Linked DNA regions of Homo sapiens: region 2 is linked to region 1. The links come from fine-mapping of genetic effects on gene expression. Tissue or cell type: putamen. Region 1 holds a variant in brackets; the other region holds the start of a gene. All regions are shown on one strand. Distances are between the middles of the regions.

Region 1 (8,110 bases):
GAAATGTTTAAAATAAATTTAATATGTAAACTTCTTTTGTTTTCTCTTATATCCAGTTGCCATTGAAATTGAATTTATGAGAAAGACTAAATTATACATATCGTATTCCAGCTCCCCACTGAACTCCAAACAAATGTATCTTGTTTGCCTATTTATATACCTGCTTGGAAGAAACGACCTCTCAAATCAACATGTCCAAATCTGAGCTTGTGCTTCTGCGCCGGCCTCTTCTCACCTCTCCCACGACTACCACCCCAGCTGAAACCAGCATCCTTTCTCACATAGATAAGTACATCAGCCTCTAGCTTAGTCTCCCTTCTCTGGCCCTCACACCCTTTCACCATCTCATCACACTAGCCAGAAACATACCGTGCATCAGAGGATATCTCTCTCCTCTTCTTGGAAACCACCAGCTCGCTTGGCACAAACACCAGTGACCTTTGCAATGGCCTGTAAGCCCACAGGCAGCATCCCTGGTGAGCTCTCCCTTCCTCTGTCTCACAACTCACTGCCAAACTGGCACCTCCGTGTTTGGCACATACCTGCACCCACCCACCTGCTGCAGGCCTTTTGCACTCACCATTCCTTCCACTTGAAAAGGTTTTCACCCAGATCTTTGCATCACCTATGCCCTGGGTTTCTTCAGTTCTTAAAGAACACCTTTTTGCTGTAAAGGTCCTCCTCTCTGAAATTGCACCTGCTTCCCAACACCTCTAGCATTTTCCTTCTTTACTAAGAAAAAATACTTAGTTCTTAGATTAATCCAGCATGATACACATTTATTTTTTGTGTTGTTGATTCATCCATTACAATGTATAAACTTCAGGAAAACACTTGCATGAGCATGATCTAGAATTGAAGAGATTTAAAGTGGTAGAGGACCATGTGTGATGGCTCATTCCTATAATCCCAGCACTTTGGGAGGCCGGTGGGAGGATCACTTGAGTTCAGGAGTTCAGGACCAGCCTGGGCAACATAGAGAGACCCTGTCTCTCTCTCTGTCTCTCTTTTTCTAATAGCCAGATGTGATAGTGCGTGCCTGTAGTCCCAGCTACTCATGGTGCCAAGACGGGAAGATCGCATGAGCCTGGGAGGTGGAGGCTGCAGCGAGCTGTGATCACGCCACTGCACTCTAGCCTGGAAGACAGAGCAAGACTCTGTCTCAAAAAAAAAAAGAAAAGAAAAGAAATGATCGAGCTAGATTTGAAAGGGAAAAGGAGAGAAGAAAACATACACAGGACCTGTGTAAGTTTTTATACCTTAGCTGGAGTATTTGCTGGCCTAATTTATGGAAATAAAGAACAAGGATGGCCATAAGCAAAGATGTAATTGAAGAAAGGTTGTATGTGACCTGAGAATGATCGTCTGGATAAAAAACGTTTACAATGAATCAGCGATTGCCTCCTTTATACTCCCTTTTTCCCTTTCATAAAAGAAAAAGTATGCAATATTAGTAGGCTTAATTGACTTACATTACTTAAAGCCACACACAAACAAACATGTAAAAATCAGATCTCTCTGCAAACTGTGGTTCATGATTCTGAGTCCCTGAAACAAACAACAACAAAAAAAATTTTAAGTGTCGGATGTTGTTTAGTTACCAAAAGAGAACCATTTATTTTTTGATCCAGGGTCTTGCTTTGTTGCCCAGGCTGAAGTGCAGTGGCACCATCATAGCTCACTGTAACCTCGAACTCCTGGACTCAAGCAATCCTCCTGCCTCAGACTCCGAAAGTGCTGAGATTACAGGTGTGAGCCACTGCACCCAGACTAATAACCATTATTTAACATCTCTGCATGGTTTTGTATATTCTTTAAAAGTTATTGGATGTAATTCTGGCAAAGTATGCATGTGTGCTAATACACAGGTCGCTACACAAAGCAGTCTACATTTGACTGTGCCAGAGTCAATTCTTGAGATATACTGCAATCAACAAAGATGCCCTCTCAGAGCCTCAAGGGGAAAATGTTCATTGTGCCCAAGTTCTGACTTTCAATGGAAATAGTAGCCATTATTCCTTAGCTTTTCCTTCATCCACAGAACCTTCCAGGTCTGTGTTAGCACACAGTTTGAAAGATCTCCAAATGTAATATGCTAAAGGATCTCTGACAATGCATATAACTCCATATAAGCCAGATGACTATTTTCCCTCCCAACAAAATGCCTTTTGATTGCAGCTTGCAGGGACAGTGTCTCTATGGCTAAAGGGCAATGCATTGTCCTTTGTGGTCATGAAATCTTAGATTTGTGTGCCTTATGTCTGCTATGATGCTGCCATTTTAGTTTTCTGGTGAGCCTTCAGTGAAAATACATAGAATTGAAAGAGGGTGTACTGGAAAAGGTAGAGGGACCACCAAGTAAATCATCCTCCACAGAACCACAGCAGAGTACTGCTGACCCTAAACTCATCACAGTCCTGACCCTTAAGGTTCTTATGCTTTTCAATCGGGGTGACTCTTAAGATAACGAATGAAGGGTGTTAGCAGGGGATAAGCACAGGGGCATGGTGAGTCACTTGCAGAGAAACCTAACCAGCCCTTAAAGGGAAGATTCTTGGAGAAAATGAGTCCAAAGCTGAAGCCCCAAGGACAAAACCGAGAAGGCCAGAGCATTTGCAGGACTGGATTGGAAGCATATAAGCAAAGTGGAAAATATGTAAGAGAATGCAGGTAAGAGGGAGAAGGGTAGAATGGTGTAGTCAGGGAACTGCAAGTAATTCTTGTTTCTGAAGCATGGAGTGAATAAAAGGAATAGTAAGAAATGAGACTGAAAAAAAAACAAGGGCCACTTGGTGAGGATTTTTAATACAGCATCAACCAATTTCAGTTTTACTCGGGTATCAGTAGGTACTGAATGAAAGGTTTGTTAACAGAGGATTTATGTGTCCCAGTTTATATCTTATAATAGTTACTCTGGCCAGGCTGAGGAGAGTGAGGGATCTAAGAGGCTGGTGCAGGATCCTGGAGAGATTCCTGAATTAGGTGATGGGCATGAATATGAGACAGTGCATAGATTCAAAGAAATTAGGGTATTAAGAATACCTTAGTACTTCGCAGTGGTTGCTTCTTCACCTCATGTCCTCAGGAAAATCCAGCCTGACCTCTAGGTTTCTGGCTCGGGCAGTTTGGTAGATTGTAGTGCAGTTTGCCGAGATGAGAAACACAAAAGAAGTAAAAAGATTCTACTTGCTGTTTTTATTGTAGTGGGTGATGCTTGTTGTTGGAACGAGATACTGAGACCAGTTTCTGGAATTGTTAATTTGAAGGTGGTGGTATCCTCAAATGGAGTTGTCCAATGCAAAGTTGAATTTGTAGTAACTTCACTATTGTCTGTTAAATACCTTGCCAAGTCATAACTGAATTACTCGGAGCACAGTAAATAAAACCCTAAGTAATTTGATTATGTCACATCAGTTAATGATTTAAAATCACTTACAATTTGTGCAAACTTGAGACAGCATAGTGGAAAAGCTAGGAATGATGACAGTAATACAGTGTGTGCATGGCTGATGAACACCATGGAAAATTATTTGGGGTCACCAGTTGATTTAACATCATGCTTTCCCATCTCCTGCATTACCCCAATTTCCAGTAGATAAAGTAGTAACATACCTGGATTTACAACCCTGAAGAAATCCAAATGCCTCTATGAGCTTTTCATCAGTAACTTTTGTACAAAAAAGTCATCGCCAGCTTATGTCTGCTTGGAAACCAATATGGCATTCTAATTTATTTCCCAAAGAAAACATTAAAGAGCTTCACAGCAGAATGACAGATGATTTAATCACCTATTTTTAGACAGATTAATGTATTCCAAAAAAATGTGGTGATCATTAAAACATACATTTATGGTGGAATAAACTATTTCATAAGAGCGGGCAGTAATATCTGGTACGTGAATAGGAAATAAAGTTAATGCCAAACACACACGTATAAAACCATCCTGTTTGGCTCATGAAATTATTTCTACATCAGTTATGAGAACAGCAGGAGGGTGGGATGGAGCCACTGATGAGGGCAGTGAAGAAAAAGTGGTATAACATCATCTTTTAAACTTTCATCTACAGTTTTACAAATGATGAGTGCATCTTCTAAATTTTCATCACCCACTGATTTTCTGAATAAAACCTACTACCACAAACTGGCCACTTTTGGCAACACATATTGTTGCCATGCATGACTCAAGAATTCGTTTTAAAGAAGAGAAAAGGGAATGTTTTTCTTATTTCTGTCTAGGCAGAATGGGGATATTTATCCATGTTCCTTCTTCTTATCCTTGAAGGCCCTGTAATTGTTTTATTCATCCAACCACAGCACCATCTTCTGGGCACAGAAGCTGGTACCACTGTAGCAAGATGGGGAATGGGAGCATGTAGGATGTGATGCTTTGATTCAGTCACTCGCTCTGTAGCCAGCTTTTCAGCGAGCATACTGAAAAGAGGAAGGAAACTAACGTTTGAAGAGACTAATCAAACTAACATTTGAAGAGGCTAATCAACTAATGAAGAGACTAATCAATGCTTACCTTACCATA[T/C]ATTACCTGATTTAATTATAACACCCACGAGAGTCAGTGTTCTTAGTCCAATTGTATAGTTGAAGTGACCTCCCAAGATTATACAACCTGTAGGTAGCACAGACAGAATTGGAACTTAGTCCATTAGGTGGAAATTATCTGGACTGCAAAATAGGCTCATTGCACCATATCTTCTGTCCATTGACTTCAGTTGAGTTGTTTAGCACTTGAAGGGGTATGATCTGAGGGAAAGTGCCATCAAGAGCAGGTGAGATTGCAAGCAATGGAGTTAACTGTCACTGTTTTTTCTCTCTGTGAATATAATTGCCATCCAAGTAACTCCTGTGTTGCCTATGTGAGAAATGGCCTTTATGTAGTAGGAATGTTAGTTCTGCAGATAAGCAGTAAAAGGACCCTAAGCTGATTATTTGACTTGATGATTGGAATTATATCCAGTCCTATATGAAGGCCCAAGAGATAACTATTCAATTAAAGCTGCTCAATTAATTTGCATTTAAGTTAAGATACATTTTGCAGATTCCTCCCTTTTAAAACACCTTTAAGCATGCATATCAACTGCTCTTAATACAACAGACTTACAGGCTCCCTAACCTACAGCATGGTTCCAAGAAGGGTACTGGACAGGCTTCTGATTAGAGTGGGGAATTAGGAAGGTTCTGGGGCCACCTAATATAGGAAAAATAAACCATGATGGAGCATTGAGTCAGCATGATTTATGATTTTAGGAGTATCTGAATGGAAGATGTTCAGAAGCAAGTTCCTAAAGGGTAAGTGGAGAAAAGCTATGTAGCCAAGTTTACCTCTTTTCTGAAATTCTATAGTGGAGATGATTTTTTTTTTTTTTTTTTTTTTGAGACGGAGTCTTGTTCTGTCACCAAACTGGAGTGCAGTGGCGCAATCTCAGCTCGCTGCAACCTCCGCCTAGTGGAGATGATTTTTTTTTTTATTATTGTGGTAAAATACAGATAAAGGTAACGATCTTAACCATTTTTAAGTGTACAGTCAATGGCATTAAGTACATCCACATTGTTGTGCTGCTGTCACCACCATCCATCCACAAAACTCTTTTCATCTTCTAAAACTAAAACTCTACCCATTGAACAATAACTTCCCATTCTCCTCTCCCCTTAGTACCTTGTAGCAACTCCTCCACTTTCTGTCTCTACGAATTTGACTACTTGAAGTACCTCATATAAACAGAATCATATAGTATTTGTCCTTTTGTGACTGGCTGATTTCATTTAACAAAATTTCTTTCAGGTTCTCCTGTTTTGTAGCCTATGTTAGAATTTTCTTCCTTTTTAAGGCTGACTAATAATATGTGTGTATACTATATTTTGTTTCTCTATTTTTCCATTGATGGGCATTTAGGTTGCCTCTACCTTTTGGCTCTTGCAAATAATGATGCTATGAACATGGGTATACAAATAACTGGGTCCCTGCTTTAAGTTCTTTTGGATATGTACCCAGAAGTGGAATTGCTGGATCTTGTGTAATTCTATGTTTAATTTTTTGAGGAACTACCATACTTGCCATACTTTCTATGGCAGCCACACCACTTTACATTTCTAACAATAGTGTGCAAAAATTCCTTTTCTTCACATCTTCACCAACACTTGTTATTTTCTGTTTGTTTTTTATAGTAACCATGCTAATGGGTGTGAGGTGATATCTTATTGTGGTTTTAATTTGCATTTACCTAATGATTATGGCATATTGGCCATTTGTATATCTTTGGAGAAATGTCAATTCAATCATTTGCCCATGTTTTAATTGGGTTGTTTTTGTTGTTGTTGTTGAATTGTATATTCTGGATATTAACTCCTCATCAGATACAAGATTTGCAGACATTTTCTCCCATTCCTTGGGTTACCATTTCCATAGTAAACTTGACTTTTGTGTGTATACAAAGCATCCCTCTTTTTAGGGAACACCATACTCCTGGGCATATGGCTGAACCCTAGCCAATCAACATATTCCACCCTCTTTGTCATATTTATTTGCCCAAGAATGGGCTCAGGACCCAAGCTAAGCCTATGAAAACTCACCCCAAGACTTTTCTCCAAAGTCATTATGAAAGATGCACTGTCTTTCTGGGATTAGGATCTCTGGTGACTATGTCAGCCTAAAATGCCAGAACCATCTTTCCTACCACATTGAGAGAGAATCTGAATATGAAGCCAACATGTGGGAAACAGCTCAGAACCCATGCCCTGTTGATGCTGTCAGAGAATTTGGTTTTAGGATGTCAGGAGACAGAACTTCAACTCAGTGACCATGCCTGGAATTTCTAGTTTTGTAAGCCCAAAACTTTTTTATTCTTTTTTCCTTGAACTTGATTGACTTTAGTTTCTGTCATCTGTGGTCAAGAGAGTATGCATGAATGTCCAGTTGGAAATGTTAATTCTTGGAACCAGCAGCTCAAAGCATGCCCTCTAGTCAGTGCTTAGGATTGATTAGAATAAAAGATGTTAAAGAAGAAAGGATGTTGGAGTCGATTACTCAAATTATAAAAAGTGAGTTTGGGACTCCTGACTGTGTTATTCCCTAGGTCTTCTGCTCTTTCCAGCTATATAGTGGCCAAGACATGTGAGACTAGGAAGAGATGGATAGTTATTTATAAGGAAAGGGGCTTCAAATGTCTCACAATAGTTTAACATTGTTACTTTAAAATATTTTCCCCTCTAAACTGTGGTGCTTTGGATGAATCCTGGCACCTCACTCTGTGTCACCCTGCGATTTGGCCACACCTCTTAAGAACACAGATATCCAGGACTAGAATTGCAGTGCTCCATCTGTTTCTTGCATTCCAGCGCCATCCCATAACCACATCAAATTATCTGTGAAATGCAATTTAGAACTCACTTAGTGAATAGGATGCCACATCCTATGACCACTCCTTAATTTTTCTTCTTTGGAAAAATGTGTGACCTATAACCCTGACCTATGACAGTTCCACCCATAGGCAAGCAATGTGTTAAATAGAAAGGGCACTGCTGAATCACGTTAAGCCTCCAACATTCTGCTTAACAGGACTAGCGTAGTAGTTAGGAGTGTATAGGTGTTCCTTTTCTCCCATTTCTAATGTAACTCCAATACACCCATACTGGCACGCATACTGAGAGCTTATTTACCATGCTTTTTGATCAACTATAACTTTTTTTTAAATAACTAAATGATAAATTCTAAAAATAAGAGTTTCTATTGCAACAACAGACAAGACCTTAGTGCTAGAAAGCACATCATCATGTCAATGGAACAACAAATCATGAGCTTGACAGTAATGAAGCTGTTGCTGAGACATTTGTCTGTCTTTTTACAGGGCAATAATTCAAGTTTGAAGGCACGTATTTATTTAACGTTATGTCTAGGAATAAGTTGCCTTCCTAGCCTGAAATTTCTTTCTTTACCCAATGACAAAATTGTACATAATTAATGAGTGCATTCATTGTGTTTTGTTTTTTTAAAAAAATGGTCTAGCAAAATTTCCTTCTGAACATTTAGTTTAATCATGTTTATTAACTACAAACCGTGAGGTACTTGCCAACTCTGACCATAAAATGTTCTATTCTGAGG
Region 2 (8,110 bases), 350 kb after region 1:
CTTTATTGTTGTTATTTGCCACCTTTAAATCTTAGCAATGTGGCATCTTATCTACAATTCACTGAATTAAATGTGAAAAGAGGGGGTTAAGGTATAGTGAACACGCAGAAGACTTCTAATTACTGAATGGATTTATACCATCCAGGATTTATACCATCTCCCAGCTGGTGCCAGGTAAAGGTAGCAGCAATACCCAGCATCACTGTTATTGACCTTCTTAGCTAGCCACCAAGCTCACTAGTGCCATATTCACTTTGGCTGCCAAAATATAACAGGACAGCACCACTATAATTTAGAATGAGCAAAGAGAGGTAATGCTCACTTTATTAAATAAAGTTAAAATTTAATGAAACAAAGTCAGAGTTTGATAGGCATATAAGCGGGAGATAGACAACAGTCAATCAGCAGCAAACAAAGTATATGGAGATAATTATGTAAAATCAAAAAAGAGGCACCTGGCTGGGCACGGTGGCTCATGCCTGTAATCCCAGCACTTTGGGAGTCTGAAGTGGGTAGATCAGGAGTTTGAAACCAGCCTGGCCAAAATGGTGAAACCCCACCTCTACTAAAAATACAAAAATTAGATAGGCATGGTGGCAGGCACCTGTAATTCTAGCTACTCGGGAGGCTGAGGCATGAGAATCTCTTGAACCTGGGAGGCGGAGGTTGCAGTTAGCCTAGATCGTGCTGATGCACTCCAGCTTGGGTGACAGAGCAAGACTCCATCAAAAAAAGAAAAAAAAAAGGCGTCAACTTTTTTTTGCATAGAAAGTTGGCAAATATTTGAAGTGGTGGTAGTTACCATCAAATAAAATGAATAAAACATCTGGAGGTGCTAATTAGAAATGAAGAAAAAAGAGAATGGGCAGTTTTGCCAATTTGCCAGCCTGTGTCTCCTGACCAAATGATGAGGAGTAAGAGAAAAGGATTAACATTTAAATTTAAAGGCATATTTTTCCCCTGAGAAAGATTATGTAATGGCATATGAAGTCAGTTCAAAGGAAGCCTATGATGTTTTCCTTCTCATAAAAAAGGAAGCAAATTATTCCATCCAAGTGCAACTGAATCAAATTTGAACTTCCTGTAAATGTATCAGCTGATAAACCAGGATTTAAGTTCAAGGGTACATTCCATGCCTAATCTTCATTTTACAGCTTTCAGAGATAAAATTTCCTTAGCACTAAAATCTTTCAAAGATAGTCTCTCTTGCAAAACAAATTGTTAGAAGTGAGCAGCAAATTGGCCAGATGCCTCTGGGGCATAAATGTTTCTTAAAAGTCAGGTAAGAACTTTTAGAAATGATCTCATACTTTCAAATCACGAGTTTTCTATTTCGTGCTTTGGAACAGAAATGGTCAACTTACCAAAAGGGTTAATACAGCTTCTCAAAAGTGCTTGTCTTCTCACAGAATATAGTTTATATTTTGGGAGAATTTGGCACAGCTTAAGTTACAGCTTAAATGACTTGCTCAGTAGAATCCAACAAGAAGTCATTTCTCCCACCCATTTGTCCCTAAGTGTTTATTAGCAGGGATAGACACAAAATTTTAAAAGAAAAAAAGTATTTTTCATATGAATATTCTCTCTCCAAGACTTCATATCAAGATACATAAGCAACAGTATTCTTCGACTCTTACTCCCAAACTGGAAGCCATCTTTTACAGAATTTTAGAAACACTCCAAAATTTATTATCAGCCCACTAGCCTTTCTCAGCCCAAATGTCTTACTGCAAGATAAATGGACATGGGACTTAATTATTTCTTATATGGCTATGAAGAAAAATAATTGCTAAGCATAAAAACCAGCCTATGACATGAGGCTAGTTTTACATGCTTCCAGAAATTGGTACTTTTAAGTTTCCAACATTGAAAAATATACAGACAACAGAAATCTTTTCAGTGGTACATATTACTATGATTTTTACTATCTCCCCAGACAGCCTGAGCAGTCCATTAACTAAGGTGTAACAGAGACCCAGAGCCAAAAAGAAAAAAAAATGGCTCCAACAAGAAAAATCACAGCTTAATGTATGCAGTAAGGCCATAGTTTGGATTTATAATAATTATCACATTCCAGAGCCCAAATTAATTATTTGTAGTTATTTTGCAGATATCTTAGTAGCTACACACACACACACACACACACACACACATTTCACAAAGTATTGGCCAATGCCCATTTTCACATAGCTCTTTAGTCTAAAAATAACTTTAACTTTCATGTTTTACCAAGACTGAGAAAAGGGAGAGCAAATCAAAGGAAACTAGTTGAGGAATTAGTGAAGAAATTTTTAACAGGCCTGCTGGGTGTTCTCTCACTGCTGTCTTGAACCTCAGATTAAATTATTATACTTTCTGTGTTGTAGTACTGGGTCATTCGTATGTGAAGACAAAGGCAACTTCAACTTGATATTTCTGTCATCCCTGCTGTGGGAAGAGTCCTTTTCCTGGTTTATAACATCAATCATTCTCACAATAAATCTTAGGGTGGATGTGGTCATTTAAATCTCCACCTGCACAAACAACAGAAAATAAGAGAGCTCATAAATCTCTACACTGGTGATTAACAAATTTTGGATCCTCAGCGAAGATATTATGGAAGAGGGGTCGCTAATTCATTAATAAAGACTGATTTGCTGACAACCTGTTTAGTTTACAGCATAGGGGGAAAGCAAACAAGACCCTGCTAGCAAAACAAAACGTTAGAGGTTAGTGAATTCCCAGCTGAGCCTAGGATTAGAGATATGATATCTTAATGTAGGAGAAGCCTTCAGACCCTAAGCCAACCACTCAGAAACCACTCTTACATTTTGCTCCAGCCCCTCAACTTCAATGCCTACCTGCAAGGGAAGAAAACCTGGCAAAGAAATTGTAAGAGAGATTTATGCCTTCAGTCTCCCTGGTTTCATTGCACCAATTTCATCCAATCCCTAGGTTCTGTTTCCCTGTGCTTTTTCTACCTACTTCCCAGGAGACTTTCTTATTCTCTAGGAAAGGTGGTTCGAGCTGGGGTTAAAGATGGAAAAGAACCTTTCTCAAAAGGATAGTCTTGCTTTGTGTTGTGTAATGTCAGCTTCATGTGAGGAACACTGGCACCTAACAGGCTGGAAGAAGACAAAGACAGCAGCATTGAAAGGGACGGTGCATCACAAAAAGTGCCAGGCAAGGTGATGTCTGAGAGCAACAAAGACTCTCAAGGCAATATTAAATGCATTTCTAGAAAAGAAAAAAAAACCGAGGGGAAAGTTTCCATTTATTAGGAAAAGATGATCAACTAACATAATGTTTTCCACACACTCATACTGCCCTCTCATTCCCTACCCACTCCCACTAAGCTGTGTGTGGTTGGGTTTGAGTGTGCAAATCAAGTATGTTTGTGTACACGTAGGCAGTCCTTTGATGTCTTGAAAATGACCAGGTGTAGGTGAAATGTTTTATACTTACTTTTCCATCACCATAAAGATTCTAGGAAGCACTTGTCTTCATTTATCCCGGGGAAGGTGGAAGATCTCGGTAAAGCCTTGGAGTCTTATGAGGTGTTGGCAGGATGCGGTTGATACTCCCTGTATTTTAATTCGTGTTTTCTTGGGAGGAGAGAGGGCATGGAGTGTAGGTGGAAGGCCCAGAAAGAGCCAAACGATCTAGTCGTTTTTCTAAAGTTCTCAGTAACAACCAGTTGTGACGTCTTAAGAGAGAAAGAAGGCCTTTTACAGATGGACAGAACATGCTGCTTCTCGGCCCCGGCCACAGTTGGGAGAAGGTGGCTGGTAAGTACATGATGCAGTTGAGTTGATTTACATTACAAGTTGCAAATCAGGGTCTGTGCATTGAGTTTCCCTCCGGTTGTGAAAGGGGTCTAAGCGCTTTGCTGGGGCCTGGCAGGCCCCTCCCTGGGCTGCAAGGATCCGCCCCTCTATTCCCCAGATAAATTCCTAGTGTCCACCAAATTCCTCAGCGCTCGCTCACCCTCCTCTACGGCCACGACTCTGGGAGTGGGGAAACAGAGAGCCGGTTCCTCTGCTGCAGAAGTCCTCGGGGTTCCTTCTCACAACTCTGCGAAGGGGAAAGGGTTGTGAGACCCAACCAGACCCCAACTCCAGCTCCCAGCAGGAGGTGGCTGCGCCACACTCGGGAGGCCTCTTGGTTTCAGGGTCTCTCTGTCTCTCTCTCACCCTCTTCCTCGCTTTCTCTGTCTCTCTGTCTCTCTCTCTCTCTCTCCCTCGTCCACTCCCCCAAACATGTCCACCGGCTCCCTCAGCGATGTGGAGGACCTTCAAGAGGTGGAGATGTTGGAATGTGACGGGTTGAAAATGGATTCGAACAAGGAATTTGTGACTTCCAACGAGAGCACCGAGGAGAGCTCCAACTGCGAGAATGGGTCTCCCCAGAAGGGCCGCGGCGGCCTGGGCAAGAGGAGGAAGGCGCCCACCAAGAAGAGCCCCCTGAGCGGGGTCAGCCAGGAGGGGAAGCAGGTCCAGCGCAACGCCGCCAACGCGCGAGAGCGGGCCCGCATGCGAGTGCTGAGCAAGGCCTTCTCCAGACTCAAGACCACCCTGCCCTGGGTGCCCCCCGACACCAAGCTCTCCAAGCTGGACACGCTCAGGCTGGCGTCCAGCTACATCGCCCACTTGAGGCAGATCCTGGCTAACGACAAATACGAGAACGGGTACATTCACCCGGTCAACCTGGTGAGTGCTCCCGGGGCTGCAGCTGCAGTCCAGGCGCGCCCGCACTCCCGCCTGCGGTGGGCGCGAGTGCGCGCGGGGCTGGGAGTGGGGGTGTGGGCGCGGCGGTGACTTACACATCTCGACCACCGCGGGCCTAGAGCCTCCAGGGACCGGAGGCGGGCGGTCTAGACACGGCCCTCGCTCTCTGCCCTACCAGCCCCCGGAGCGGGAGTGATTTATGCGAGGGTTTGACGTGGCAGCCCAATTAAAAGTTTGCAAGTGTGTTGAGCTGGCACAGAGGAGGGATCCCCCGCTCCCGCTCCATCGCCATCCTCCCTGGGGTGCAGTGGCTGCTGCGGAACTGAGAACACTGACAAGACGCTGCGAGCGGACAGGCATTTTGTTAATCCTTTTTTCTTCTTTTAGCAGAGAGTGGAACTTGATTTTCCTTTCCTTGTAAATAAAAACACCCAACTCCGTTTCTTTCACAAGCATATTTAGGACCATTGGATAAGGACACATCTATGCCCCCCAAATTGTCCACGTAAGCCCTTAACCGCTTAAATATTCTGTGCTTCTCCTATAAGTGGATTAATATTTTTAAATCCCAGAAGTTCTAGTAATGATCAGCAAAATCAGTAAATCCTCACTAGTATGAGTGTAATAAATACTAAAATAGGTCACTCTCACCCAAGATTTAAGAAATGTTACCTTTTATCTTAAAAAGTAATGCCCATTGAGCCTAATTTTTTAACACAAAAAACTGATAATCATTGAGTCTACTTTTTTCTCAAATGTATTTTACTGTTTAAGAAATATATCTTAATTTTTTTCATTTGATTTTATTTTAAAACTTCTAAGATCTAAAGAAAAACAATAACAACAACTTACTAGGATCTCTGTTTGTATATGATAAGAATGAGAGATTTTTCCTTTTAAAAGGCAAGTCTTATCAGCTAGCACTAGAGCAGTAGTGAGAGGGGTCTGAATTGTCTTCTCACCGAATTGGTTTCTGGAATTGCTGGAGAAGAAGATGCAAACCCACATTTTACCATGAAAAATGTTTTCTCTCCAATTGAAAGTTTGGGGTTTTTCCCCCCCAATGAGTAAATAGCTTTTTAAAATCTCCACCTAAAATGAAAGTGTTGCCTCGAATATTTACAACTGCTACTCTCTTCATCTTTGAATAAGAAACTTAAATGAGCTTTATTATAAAACAGCCCGGAGAAAGGAAGAGAAAGCATACTTTCTCAGTCCAGCATGAAGACGATCTTAAATTAAAAGTCAATGTAGTATAGCATTTTTTTTTCCTTAAGAGGTGGTGATTAATCTAGAAGCTGTAGTCAAAGCCGGTGTTTGCGATGGAAGAAACGAAAGTCGGACTAGGGAAATAGATGGTGATGAAAGGCGATGAAAGCGACAGGGCCCTGAAACCCGACCACCGCCTCAGAAGGAGGCCAGGAGGGCGCTTCGCCCCGAACTCGGTGCCCAGTAGGCACAAGGTCGTTCTGGGCTTCCCGGCTCAGACTGCCAAAGCGTCTGCCTCCAGGCAGTGCCACAGCACCACCCACTCTCCCACTCTCGGCTTGCCCGGGGCTTCCTGCATTGAGTCTCACAAGGAACCCAGTATAAGCCCTTTTGGCTCTCATTCTAAAAGACCACCACCAGCACCACCACCACCTCGAGCTGTGACTTGGCGCCAAAGCAGCTATTTGCTTTATGCAGCCGCAGGGTGCGCTAGGACCGGGAGTAAATTGCAGAGATAACCGGTCTCTCCAGAGCACCGCCTGCCCCCACCGCCCCCCTTCCTTTCATCTCAGGCCCCGAGTCCACCCCACCCCCTCCGCCACGGCCACTTACCTCCTCCACCCTCTTCTTTCCCGCAGACGTGGCCCTTTATGGTGGCCGGGAAACCCGAGAGTGACCTGAAAGAAGTGGTGACCGCGAGCCGCTTATGTGGAACCACCGCGTCCTGACCTTGGAGGTGCGAGTCTGGGAAAGGCGCGCTCCCGGGGGGAGCGGGCCCCGGGAAGGCGACCCCTGCCCTCAGTGCTCTCTGTCTCTGCTTCCCCCTCGCAATGCTCCTCTCTCTGTCCCACCCCGCGAGAACACTTTACAACGACGAGGAGATTCGTTTCCAAACCAGAGGAGATCAATTGTACTTACAAAGATTCCCATCTATTTAACTTTATTAACTTCTACCGTGAATGACTCTGCAAGCCTTGCTGGTCCAAGTGCAATATGTAATTATAAATATATAAATAGATAAGAGCCTATCAATGTATCTTTTGTACAATATGTTGTAAAATGTAGATCATAGGATAGCTGACTTTGACAGTCACATTTATAAAGTAATTCACTTAAAGATATATATTTTTTTCAAACAAGTTTTGCTACTTTTGAAAATAAATCTTTCTTTATATTGCTAAAAGCTCTGATATTTGGAGTGATTTTTAAAAATATTTGGAATAAGAAAGTGGGAAACTATGGGGAAGCTTGATAATGAAAATGGTTCTTTTAAACCTCAATCTAAACTTCTAGAGATAGAAGAAAATTGCATATGAGTTTCATAATGAAGATGCAGATTATGTTTTATACTGAAACCTTAAAAAAGAAATATATCGGTTACTTTTAAGGCTAATAGAAATTATATAACTGAAAACAAAGAATGGGCAGTATTAAAGTTATCCACAGTTATACAGTTCAAGAGTAAAACGCACCAGAAAAAGGAAATCCAATTTTCATGGATTCCACCGTATGACTGCTGACACGGGCGAGAAAGTAAACTCCACCTTTTGTCACCTTCCAGGTGTGAGCATAGCTGCAAACTAGTGAAGAAATAATAGAAGCTATGAAAGATGTAAATTCCATAACCCTTAGGGTGTGTTTCAGGATTTTCAAAGCTCTGCAGCATACATTATCTACATTTCTTATTAATAGTCCATTAATTAATTCTAACAATAAACCCGCATGCCTGCCTTTTGGTTGCTGTTAGCGGGTGCGTTTAGCTCCCGCCACGACTTCCGGCGGACTGGGTTTAATTTAAACATTTTCCAGGCTACGGAACAGCTCCTAAGGGAAGATTAAGTTGAGATAAACAGAGAAGCAAGGCCGAGGAGCCTGCGACCCGGCTCCCTCACTGCCCCAGCGCAGCCCGCGGCGGCCGATGCGCCAGATGCCACCGGGGCTGTTTAATGTTCGGGGTTATGACCGCAGTGTTTACAAGACGTCTTCGGTTATTTATACTGTTATTCCTCGCAGAGAGCCTTGAAACTTCCGCTTCATTTGCTCTTTCTTTTCGATTTTTTACCCTTTTTTCTCGGCTTAGTTTGGTACCTGGAGCGAGAGCTTCTCCGCCCTTCCACCAACCCCACAGGCCGCTTCGCGGGTGGAGCCCTCTGCCTGGCCATGGAGGAAGGATCCCGCTAGGCTGGTCCCGACTG

What was found. PIP is the estimated chance that this variant, and not a neighbour inherited with it, causes the effect.
Region 2: TARID starts here. The variant in region 1 is fine-mapped to the expression of TARID in putamen (GTEx, PIP above 0.99). The same link has a PIP of 0.9 or more in nucleus accumbens.

What each region holds. Positions count from the first base shown.
Region 1 is chr6:133,532,738-133,540,847 of GRCh38, forward strand. TARID (TCF21 antisense RNA inducing promoter demethylation) reads right to left here. Exons shown (of 9, transcript NR_109982.1): 6 at 3,043-4,621. Among named protein-coding and RNA genes, the nearest start is that of EYA4-AS2, 80 kb to the left of the region's middle. The variant T/C (reference allele first, on the strand shown) is at 4,535.
Region 2 is chr6:133,885,160-133,893,269 of GRCh38, forward strand. It overlaps TARID (TCF21 antisense RNA inducing promoter demethylation), which reads right to left and starts at 3,847. Exons shown (of 9, transcript NR_109982.1): 1 at 3,445-3,847. It overlaps TCF21 (transcription factor 21), which reads left to right and starts at 3,954. Exons shown (of 2, transcript NM_003206.4): 1 at 3,954-4,688; 2 at 6,554-7,098. The coding sequence starts at 4,239. The coding sequence ends at 6,643. RefSeq lists enhancers at 3,502-4,415, 5,667-6,431, 7,317-7,925.